3 linked regions of the Homo sapiens genome follow. The protein of the gene in region 3 interacts with the protein of the main gene of each other region in a pairwise test. Each region holds a gene or a part of one and is shown on either strand. Other genes may lie near its edges.

What was found.
Region 1: the proteins of SYNGAP1 (region 3) and ELAVL3 interact in binary tests that used the Homo sapiens proteins (3 or more experiments, as listed by UniProt).
Region 2: the proteins of SYNGAP1 (region 3) and ISL1 interact in binary tests that used the Homo sapiens proteins (3 or more experiments, as listed by UniProt).

Annotation. Positions count from the first base shown.
Region 1 is NC_000019.10:11,457,010-11,460,654, reverse strand, and holds part of ELAVL3 (ELAV-like protein 3), read left to right. Parts: intron 1-2,043; coding exon 2,044-2,197; intron 2,198-2,368; coding exon 2,369-2,594; intron 2,595-3,506; coding exon 3,507-3,545; intron 3,546-3,645. UniProt on the Homo sapiens protein: RNA-binding protein that binds to AU-rich element (ARE) sequences of target mRNAs, including VEGF mRNA. May also bind poly-A tracts via RRM 3. May be involved in neuronal differentiation and maintenance.
Region 2 is NC_000005.10:51,386,327-51,389,971, reverse strand, and holds part of ISL1 (insulin gene enhancer protein ISL-1), read right to left. Parts: exon of another isoform or gene 3,372-3,645; coding exon of another isoform or gene 3,346-3,371; intron 2,483-3,345; coding exon 2,223-2,482; intron 327-2,222; coding exon 40-326; intron 1-39. UniProt on the Homo sapiens protein: DNA-binding transcriptional activator. Recognizes and binds to the consensus octamer binding site 5'-ATAATTAA-3' in promoter of target genes. Plays a fundamental role in the gene regulatory network essential for retinal ganglion cell (RGC) differentiation.
Region 3 is NC_000006.12:33,418,537-33,422,281, forward strand, and holds the start of SYNGAP1 (ras/Rap GTPase-activating protein SynGAP), read left to right. Parts: upstream 1-1,528; 5' UTR 1,529-1,728; coding exon 1,729-1,795; intron 1,796-2,465; exon of another isoform or gene 2,466-3,745. UniProt on the Homo sapiens protein: Major constituent of the PSD essential for postsynaptic signaling. Inhibitory regulator of the Ras-cAMP pathway.

The sequences.
Region 1 (3,645 bases), on a different chromosome or scaffold from region 3:
GCATTCCAGGCAGAGAGAACAGGCAATGCCAGGGCCCTGAGGCTGAGACATGCCTGGTGTGTTTGGGAAAAATGGGGGAAGTTCAAGTTGCTGGAACACAGTAATTGGGGCAGGAAGTAGGGGGAGATGAGGGCAAGGATGTCATGGGGAAGAATGTGCAGGGTTTTGCGGTCCAAGGAAAGGACTTTGGCTTTTCTGCTGAGGAAGGTGGGAGCCATAGAGGGTTCTGAGCAGAGGGGGGATGCGACCTGGCTCAGGTGTTCACAGGCGCCCTCTGGCTGCCGTAGGGGGGACAGACAGTGGGGGATGGGAGCAGGGGGGGCCAGGGTGGAGGCTGCTGCACTGGTCCAGGTGATCAGTAGTGAAGGCTGGGCCAGGGTGGGACAGTGGCAGTGGGGTGAAGTGTGTGGATTCTGGATAAGGAGGAAGGTAGAGCCTACAGGATTTAGAGTGGGTTGGATGTGCATGTGAAGAACAGGTGTCGAGAACAACCTGAACCTGGGGACATGAGCACTTAGGAGGACAGAGTTGCCATTAGTGAGTTGGGGCAGATTGGAGGCGGGCGGGAGCAGGAGGCACCCGTGCTGTGTATGAAGTGCCCTTGACACCCCCATGTGGGGCACCTGGATGCAGTTGCCACCAGGGGTGCAGACTGGGGACATTTGGGAGCTGATGACTAAAGACCTGAGTGTCCCTGGGGGGCCCAGTGTAGCTGGGAAGAGAAGGGGCCAGTGTCTTAGGTCCACTCTCTATAGGAGTGGGAAGAGTGGCTGGGTGTGGTGGTGCATGCCTGTAGTCCCAGCTACTTGGGAGGCTGAGGTGGGAGGATGGCTTGAGTCCAGGAGTTGGAGGCTGCAGTGCAGTATGATTGCACCTGTGAATAATAACTGCATTTAGCCTGGGCAACACAGCAAGACTCCGTCTTTCAATAAAATAAAAATAGGCCAGGCATGGTGGCTCACACCTATAATCCCAGTATTTTGGGAGGCCGAGATGGGAGAACTGCTTGAGGCCAGAAGTTCAATACCAGCCTAGGTAACACAGTGAGATCCTGTTTCTACAAAAAAAAAAATTTAAAGATTAGCTGAGGCCGGGGGAGGTGGCTCACACCTGTAATCCCAGCACTTTGGGAGGCGGAGGCGGGCGGATCATGAGATCAGGAGCTCGAGACCAGCCTGACCAACATGATGAAACCCTGTCTCTGCTAAAATTATAAAAATTAGGTAAGGCGCGGTGGCTCACGCCTGTAATCCCAGCACTTTGGGAGGCCGAGATGAGCGGATCACAAGGTCAAGAGGTCAAGACCATCCTGGCCAACATGGTGAAACCCGTCTCTACTAAAAATACAAAAAAATAAAAAAAAAATTAGCTAGGCGTGGTGGTGGGCGCCTGTAATCCCAGCTAGTCAGGAGGCTGAGGCAGGAGAATTGCTTGAACCCGGTAAGCAGAGGTTGCAATGAGCCGAGATGTCGCCATTGCACTCCAGCCTGGCGACAGAGCAACACTCCATCTCAAAAAAAAAAAAAAGAAAAAAAAAATGCTGGTCAGGCGTGGTGGTGGGCGCCTGTAGTCTCAGCTACTTGCGGGGCTTAGGCGGTAGGATTGCTTGAGCCCAAGAGGTCGAGGCTGTAGTGAGCTGAGATCACACCATTGCATTCCAGCCTGGGTAAAAAAGTGAGATCCTGTCTTTAAAAAAAAAAAAAGGTCAATGTTTGTTGATGGACTGTCAAGCATGTGATAGTGATGTGAGCCGGCTATTCAAGGATCCCTTTGGGGTCACATGTCACCCCAGGGAGACATGTCCTCCCTAGGTGGCAGGTCCCCATCACTCTATACAGGCAGTCCAAGTTGTTACAGCCACTGCCATGTCCCCTCTCCCATATCTGACTCAGCCCCACCCCACGGTGACAACTCTAGAGATACTTATTGAGTGACGGATGGGTCACTTCTGCTAACTCCGTGATGGTTTAGACATGGCCTCACTCTCTCCATCTGTGAAATGGGTCTCTGCCTCACCCCTGTCCATCTGACCCCCTCACCCAGGTGTCCTATGCCAGACCCAGTTCAGCATCCATCCGGGATGCTAACCTGTACGTCAGCGGGCTCCCCAAGACCATGAGCCAGAAAGAGATGGAGCAGCTCTTCTCCCAGTACGGCCGCATCATCACGTCCCGCATCCTGGTGGACCAGGTCACAGGTCAGGCAGTCAGGGAGGGTGCACCTGGCGGGGGCGCTGGGCAAAGGCAGTCAGGTGGGACCAACGTGGGGAAACCGACCAAGATGCCAGGGCATGAAGCAGGGAAGGGAGAAGTGGGGTTACACAGGAGGGGACAGGGTCGTCGTGATGGACATCCCTGCCCCCTGGCAGGTGTCTCTCGGGGTGTGGGATTCATCCGCTTTGACAAGAGGATTGAGGCCGAAGAGGCTATCAAAGGACTGAATGGGCAGAAGCCGCTGGGCGCAGCTGAGCCCATCACAGTCAAGTTCGCGAACAACCCAAGTCAGAAGACGGGGCAGGCGCTGCTCACCCACCTCTACCAGTCATCCGCCCGGCGCTACGCAGGCCCCCTACACCATCAGACCCAGCGTTTCCGGTGAGCCCCCTGCCAGCCAGATGGCCCCAGGCCGGGTGCCCCCAAGCTTGCAACCCTCCCTGAACCCCATTCCTGCCGAAGGGAGGGATGCCGGGAGGGTGCGCACACATGGGAGCCAAGGAGCCTATCTGTCAGGTGCCAAGGCCAGCCACTCATATACAGCAGGCCCTCAATGTGTGCTGGCCGCGACGATTGGCATTCTTGGTGTTAAAAGATTTTGGCGTCATCTGGGTTCCAGCTCTGGTGGCCCCTTTCTCTTTTGGGCACGTGGCTGTAGCTCTGTGCCTCAGTTTCCCATCTGTAATAACACCAAATATTTCATGAGTCTTTGCTGTGTGCTAGACACCCTTATTTTTCTGCAACCCGATGAGAACAGAGCTTGTGTTGTCCCTGTTTTATGGACGGGGACCCTGAGGCACAGAGAGGTGTTGGGGTTTGCCTGGCCCAAACAGAGCAGAGACTCAAACCCAGGACCTGGAGTCCAAGCTCATAGCCACTCCAAGGGGAGACAATGGAAGCCCCTTGTGGGCCCCCGGGTGGCCGGGGCAAGTTACCCACCCCCTCAAGTGCTGCGAGAATGTTGGCTGTGGTAGTTACTGTCGCCTTTGTTAGGAGTTATCTTTCCCCAGGGATCCCAGCGCCTGGGCCCAGAGGGGACCCGCCAGCCAGGAGGGGGAGGATGGATGAGGAGGCCAGTGCAGGCTGGACAGCGGTGGGGCAGGCGAGAGGCGGTGCCTGAGTGACCACGGTTCCGTGCCAGGCAGTGTCTAGCCGGGCGGGCGGGGAGCAGGCAGGCGGGGGCAGGGCTCTGCTGCAGGCCTGTTGGGTGGGGGTGGGGAGGGCAGGCCGACGGTGTCACAGCAGGGGGGCGTGACTGGAAGCCACCTCTGACCACCACCTCTGCCTCCACAGGCTGGACAATTTGCTCAACATGGCCTACGGCGTCAAGAGGTAACAGTGACCCCGCCCCACTGTCCCCACCCCTCACCATCCATGCCCCTGATGCACCCCTCCCCAGCTCACCCCCAGGGCTGCAGGCTTAGCCTTGTTT
Region 2 (3,645 bases), on a different chromosome or scaffold from region 3:
TCCCCCTCGCATTCCCTGCCCGGCCCCAGAGCCACTCACAGTTTTGTCATTGGGCTGCTGCTGCTGGAGTTGCTTCATCATGATGCTTCGCTTCTTGTCCTTGCACCGCTTGTTTTGAAACCAGACCCGGATCACACGGGGACTGAGGCCCGTCATCTCTACCAGTTGCTCCTTCATGAGCGCATCTGGCCGCGGGTTTGCGGCGTAGCAGGTCCGCAAGGTGTGCAGCTGCTTCTCGTTCAGCACAGTCCGCACGCGGGTGGTCTTCTCCGGCTGCTTGTGGACGTGGGGCCGCAGGGCTGGCTGCCTGGCGGAGATGGGCTCCGCTGCGGGGCAAGGAGCGCCGTGAGCGCTGGGCTGGAGGCTCGCTTGCCGGCCCGCCCGCGGTCGCGCGCTCGCTCGCTCGCTCGCTTGCCCGCCCGCCCGCCCGCTTACTTGCTCGCCCGCCCGAGATACTCAGGACAATGGCTAGGGTTTGCAGCCTCAGCACACAAAGCAGGGGGCGGCAGAGGTGGGGGCGAAGAGGGTGAAAGGGAGAATAAAATCTTCCTCTCTAATCTGCAGAGGTCTTTGCTGAGTAATCCCGGCCTGAAACGCAGCACTCGCCCCTCCTCGTGTCAACAAAGTGTTAGCCAAGGGAAGCAGGTCTCAAAGTCTGTCCCCCTGTTCACAGCAGGGGTGGCATTTTTCAGCACTGTTTCTCCTCCATTCTCACCTTTCCTTGTGCCCAGACTGGGCCCCAGTTACATTGATTACCACCCTCTCCAGGATCAGAATTTTCTCTTGGGCCAAGGCCACAGAGGGTACCAGGGAAAGGAACGCAGAGCACTTCAGTGACAGCCATAAATACTACACCAGCAGGGACTTCTGCAAGGGGAAGGTCGAGAACTCTGCCAGAACGCCTTGAACTTCAGTCCGAGAGGACAGTCATGTGAAGGGGCTGAAGAGATTCGCTATTTCTGCCATATCTCCAATCCCTGCTCTTAGTATTAAATCTAAGGTAATACATGGATGTTCCTGAGATGGGCTGATCCCAAGCAGTGGAAAACGGAAACTCTGTTGAGCTGCCTAGGCTCTAGATAAACGGTGGCTGGGAGATGTCCCCCGCCTCCCTCTCGGTATTTTAGCTTCCTCTGTGCTTCCCCACAAGCAGAGTGCAGGCTCCACTGAACAGGAGCACCACCCCAGCCGTGCCCCGGTGCAAACTAGTCACAAATCCCCCTGAACAGAATTCTTAGAGCTGCCAGAAGGCAGAAGGGTAAGGGAGGGCTATAGTTTCCTCACCTTCAGTGTTTAGTGGGAATTGATACTTTAAAACTGCAAAGGGGTAGATCTATTCATGGCAGGAAGTCAGGTTTGGAAACACTGTCCACCTTCTAACCCACTGCTTTGGTCCCGGCCAACCTTGCTGTGTTTCCACTCCTCTTCCTTGGGAATGAGTCCTCTTATCTACATGATACAAATCCTGCACCTTCTACAACCCCCTAGGGTCAGGCCAACACCTATGGGGTCAATTTAGAGCTACAACCATGGGCCTGAAGATGAAATTCTCACCAAATCATATAGAATGAATGATTTAAAGAAGCAGGCTCCCTTTAAAAGGCAATTACTGCAGATAAGCTTGTTGACAGTTTTATATTACAACTCTGTGCAATGGCCTGCAGTTTTTAAAACTGTATCTTTTCAGTCCTGTTCTCTCACAGAAAGATAAAAAAATTAAAAAAAAAATTTCGAGTGTGAAGCAACTCACAAGGAAAAAGGATTTGGGAGACTAAATGACTTCAGGCCACCTAAGCTTCCTTCATTGGGTTAAAGGATGAAGCTCCAGGGACCCGGGGCTCCGCCCCTTTAATTAGGCAGCAGGAGAATACCTGGCTGGGAGCTGAAGCCCGTTTTCAGCAAGCCAAGGTTTGGAGGCCAGAGCGAACTGGAAGTAATGTTTGGGCGTGTGTATACACGTGTACACAAGTGGTGTACATTTATGTGTAACCATATAGAGACACACAGACGGTGTAGGTGTGCTCGGGGAATCAAGGGAGACAGTGAGTGCATTGAACCTTGCTGCAAAGGAGCAGAGCACAGCGCAAATTGCATACAGAACACTTCATTTAACTGCAGGCAAACACTACGACCACCCCTGTAGCTACCATAGTTGTTGTGGCCGCTGGCACACAGGCTGGCTTAACCTGGCGCCTGCCTACCCGAGCCGGGCAGAGGAGTACCTGCCATTTGCAGTGGCCGCGCTGGATGCAGGGGACTGAGCGGGTCGCCAGCGCCTAGACTGGCCCTCTCCACCACATCGTGGTCTGCTCGGCAGAAGAGACCGTCCTCCCGAAGCGCAAATTCGTCCCCAGGGATGAGCTGGCGGCTGCAGGCCACACAGCGGAAACACTCGATGTGATACACCTTGGAGCGGGCACGCATCACGAAGTCGTTCTTGCTGAAGCCGATGCTGCACTTGGCGCATTTGATCCCGTACAACCTGTGCGGGGGAGGGGGGAGCGGAGGCGGCCCAGAGCGGGGAGAGAAGTACAGGAAGAGGGGGTCACTTCAGGCCGGCACTTCCCTGGCCCAAGATCCCGGGCAAGACGCCCCAAGTAAACAGCATTTCCAAACAGAAGTTGGAAACAGAAGGACAGAAATGAAACCCTGCTCTCTCCTTCCCTGTCTCTCTTCCTTCCCCCATCTCTCTTTTCCCCTCCCTCCCTCCTCCCTTTCTTTTACTCCCGTTTCCTTTCCGATGAACCTCTGTCTTAGTTGGTAACTCTTAGCTCAAAACACCTAGCTTGTACCACAGAAAATGTATTGATGGGTTCCAAACTCGGGCTGCTGCTCTAGCAATCAATCCCAGTGTTGATCTTGCAGATCTTGGCAGGAAGGAATCCAGAAAGACTCTGGTGGCCACCGACACCAACACTTTCACTTCCCTATCCCACAATTTCTGCTGCTAGAAATGTCTAAAACTGCAACAAAAAGTCCTCCTTCCAAGAAAAAAGGAGGTAGGAGAAGGGGATTGTCACCCCACTCGGTTTGCAAACACTCACAAATAAACAAGCAGAATAACAAAATGAAACCTCTGAGAGTTTCCACATCTCCTTTTGCACAAGTACTTTCCAGTCTTTCTCCAACTAAAGATTTTCTTCAGGCAGCAATGTTAACAGAAAATTTCCTCTCCATTCTTCCTTGTATTATTATTTTTTTAAAAAAATCTGCGTCTGTTCCCTCAATCTTTTTCAAGTTGCTGAATCATCTACCTCATTTCAATTTTCTTGAAAACCATGACCAGAATGAAAAAAATGCAAAGACCCGCTTCTAAGGTCTTTCTCACTCCTGGCCTTTCCTTACCAAGGGACAATCTTTATAGGTTCCATCTAGGCTGCACTTCCCTGGCCCCTTCTCCATCTTTCAGGAATAACAGAAGCTGGGGCATTCCTACGAACAGAAAGAATGGAAGAGAGAGGAAAAGATCCACATAACAGGAGGAGGCATCCTGCTTCTCCAAGGAGAGATGTGGAAATCTAACTGTCCAGTCTGTTCTGCTTTTACAACTACAAGATTACACACACACACACACACACACACACACACACACACAGAGTTGAGAGAGAGTGAAGAGAAGGTAAAAATGATTAGTTCCTTCTACAC
Region 3 (3,745 bases):
CCTCCCCTGCACTGTTTCCGAGGTCTTAAGGAGTGGGAGGGTCTGAGAAGGACCCTTCACCCCAAACTCAGGGGTTAAGAGAGCGCCCCCTGCCCTTTTAGTTGGGCAGAGATATGCCTGGGTTTGGGAATGAACAACGGTGATCTAGAAGCCCGCTGTCCCTGGGTAGCAGGGAGTGATTAGGCAGGCACGGGCATGGCAAGACAATAGCTAGCTGAGGAAAGAAGCATTTTAAAACAGAGCGAGACCCTGTGGTAGAGGATGGTGAAAATGGGGCCTAGCCATCTTAATTGAAAACCCAAAGCTTGAGACAGACTACTGAATCAGAGGGAAGGAGAACGAGGGCTGCAGGATGGGGACAGTGGTGATGGTCCTTCTGTCCCCTCTTCCCTGCCTATTCCACTCCCCAGGATTGGTCCACCTCTCAGCCTCGGGTCTCCTTTCCCTAACCCATCCCCCAAGGAGCCAGGACCTGCCCTACATAACTTCCCTGGGGCCCAAGCACATCCTGTGACCCAAAAATGGAGAGAGGGGCCAATGAGAGGCAGAGAGGTGGGAGGAGGTGCAGAGAAAAAAGCTCTTGCCACTGCCCCCACCCAATATTTCCCCTCCCTTCAAGGTCTGAGGTCATTGGTCTGGTGGTGGGGATGCCTCGGAGTTTCCCAGGCTGACGTCAGGGTTATACCTCTCGGAGGTTCTAGGGCAGGGAAGTGGGGAGGGGAGGTTCCCTGAGATCTCTGTCTTTGAGTTTGGAGTTTGTCTCTGAGACAGATTTCGGAGGGGTCTTTCAGTATTTGTGTGGAGATCTTTCTTAGGATTGAGTTTCCTTTTATGCTTCTGGTTTGGGGGGTTTCTATGTTTCAGGGTCTGTGGTCGCACTCTGAGGTCTTTCGAAGTCTTCTTCATGAATTTTGGGTCTCTGAGTTGTCCATCTCCGGACCAGCTGAAGTCTCTATCTCCCCTTAAGTCAGGAGTGTCTCTGTCTCTAAGTTATCAGTCTCTGAGATCTGAGTCTGGGGTCTCTTTCTAGGTCTGAGTTCTCTAAGCTCTAATTCTACATCTGGCTCTTTCTGAATCTGGGCCTCATCTTTTTCTGAGTCTAGGTCTCAGGTCCTGGTCCCTGAAATCATCATCTCAGGGTCTGGAGTCTAAGATATCTGTAGGTATGGAGAACCCTTTTTAGACTGGATTTTCAGATTTTGATATTGAGCTTCTCTCTCTGGGGGATCTGGGGTCGTTTTTTCCTCAAATCAGGAGTCTCTTTTCCTCTAGATTTTGGCCCTGTGTCTCAAATTACCCCACAGTGGGGGGTGGTGAAGTATCTTTCTCTGTGGGTCTAGGGTCTCTCTGTCTCAGGGTCTGGGGTCTGCATCTTTAGGACCTCTGTCTCTCTCTGGTGTGTTTTTGAGTCAGGGGTCTCTCTCTCTCTCACAATCTGGGCCTCCCGGAGTAGGGGTGGGGGCTGCAGAGTCTCTCCCTCCTCCTCCTCCTCCTGCTCTCTTCGCTCTCGCTCGCTCCCCCGCCCCCCCTCTCTCTCGGCTGCCGCTGCTGCCGTTGGCTCTTATTCTCCTCCTCCTCCTCCTCTCTCCTCCTCTCTGCTTCTCTCTGCTCCTCTCTCCTCCTCTCTCCTCCTCCTCCTCCTCCACCTCCTCCTCCTTCTCCCCCTCTTTCTCCCCCTCTTTCTCTCTTCTTTCTCCCCCGTCCCCCCGCCCCCTCCCCCCAGGCCTGATGAGCAGGTCTCGAGCCTCCATCCATCGGGGGAGCATCCCCGCGATGTCCTATGCCCCCTTCAGAGGTACGTGGTGGGGGGAGGGGGAGGGCCATATGGGGGGCAACAGGGGGAGGGGCAGGGGGCGGGGGAGAGTCGGGGCCGAGGGAAGGGAGCGGCTGAAATGGAGGGAGAGGGGAGGACCGGGAAGGCAGGGGTGGGAGCAACCGGGAAGGAGGGATTGGAGGCCAGAGGGATAGGGGTAGATAAGGGATGGAGGGGCCAGGAAATGGGCCTTGAAAGGGGGCTGAAGGGAAAATGATGAAGGGGAAAGAAAGCGCCAGAAAGGGGTGGGAAGGTAGAAGGATTGGGTTGGGGAAAAAGCTGCAGAAATAATTTGGGGGTGGGAGCTGAGTGATGAGGAAAACATCAAGGAAATAGAGGGACAGAGTCTTGGGAGAGGGGCTAGGAAGGAGAAATGAAAACATAGGGGTGAAAAGAGAAGCCAAGAAGATGTGGGGGGATAATTTGGTGGGGGACTCAGAGTATGGTAAGGGGCGGAAAAAGAGAGGAGGATGGAGGGAGAGAAGGGGCCAGATGGAGAGAGAGGGAGGCAGTGGGGGGTGGGGGGATGGAGGGTCCAGATGGAGGGAAGAGAGAAGAGAGAGGGAACGGTGGGGGAGGGGAGACCAGGGCAGGGGGAGGGCCAAATTATGTGTGCTTGGGGGGGTGGCAGTACAAGTAAGATGAAATGATGGGAGTAGGGGACAGGTTAGGATCCTGCCCCAGACTCTGACCCTCTTAAAGGCTCTTGACCAGTAAAATGTAACCTCTGGGGTCTTAATGCTGTCTTCACTTCATCACTTTTACCCCCTTCCCCCACCCCTCCAATCCTTATTTCCATTCCCCCTCCCTCCTCTGCTGTCCATCACCTATATCTTTCCCCCCATATGGTGTCCGTTCCTTATATGAGTCCCCCTTCTGTCCTTCCCCTATATCAGTCCCCTCTCTGGTGTTCATTGCCTCTCTCTTATCTCTTTTCTATGTGGTCGCTCCCTTATATCTCTATCACTTCTTTACTAGTCCGTCTTGACCCCTTCTCATAGCCTCCGCATTAGGTCTGCCTCCTTTGCTCTGACACATGTCCAGTCGAGCCCTTCAGGTGTATTCCCTTGCCCCTGGGCATTTACCATCATTTCTGCCTCCTTTTCTATCTACTCCTATTATTTGTCTCCCAGACCATTCCTTGTCACCACAAGTCTGTGCCTACCCACTTTCCCTTAATACCTCAACTCTTATTATCATTTCTCTTTTCTTGTCTCCTCTACTTATTGGGGTGTTGGAGATTTGGGGTACAAAGACACAGGTTTTGATGATTAGAACAAGGGATCCCCATCTCAGCCCTTGAGGGATTTCTCATCCTAGTAAAAATTTCCCGTTTCTCAGCCATGTTGCTCTGCCTCTTGCATCTGCCTCCCAGAATCATTCTTCACCAAGTCCAGACAGTATGTGTGTGTGTGTTTCTAGAGTTGTTCCTAAGTTCCCTGCTGCCAGGAGAAAGATGCCCTCTGAAGTCTAACCCGCCTCCCTTGGCTGCAGCCTGAACCAGCCCTTTCCCCAAATGCTTATGTGTATCAACAGATTTCTCCTCTGGGTATACCAAGTGTCTAAGTGCGGTGGGCATGTTGCCTGCAATGTCTGTAGTTTCAGAGGCTAGGTATTGGTGATCTCTGTATCTAGAGAACATTAGTTAGTCTCTGAGATGGGTTGAGATAGAGTTTCAAAGTATGTGGTTTCTAAATGGTGGACATTCTGAGGGTTCATCGCTCACTGTGATCTGGAGGTTGGGTAAATTTGAGAGACATATTTATAGACAGAAAAGGGCTGAATTTGCAAAACTCTGCTACTCAGTGCATTCTGTTGGAATGAAGCTCAAAGACCAGTTCTCCTGCAGTATACTCATGGTTATCCCATAAAGGTGACAGAGTTTGATCTTTTTTCCATCTAAAATCTGATACCTTAAGCCTAATTTCTAGC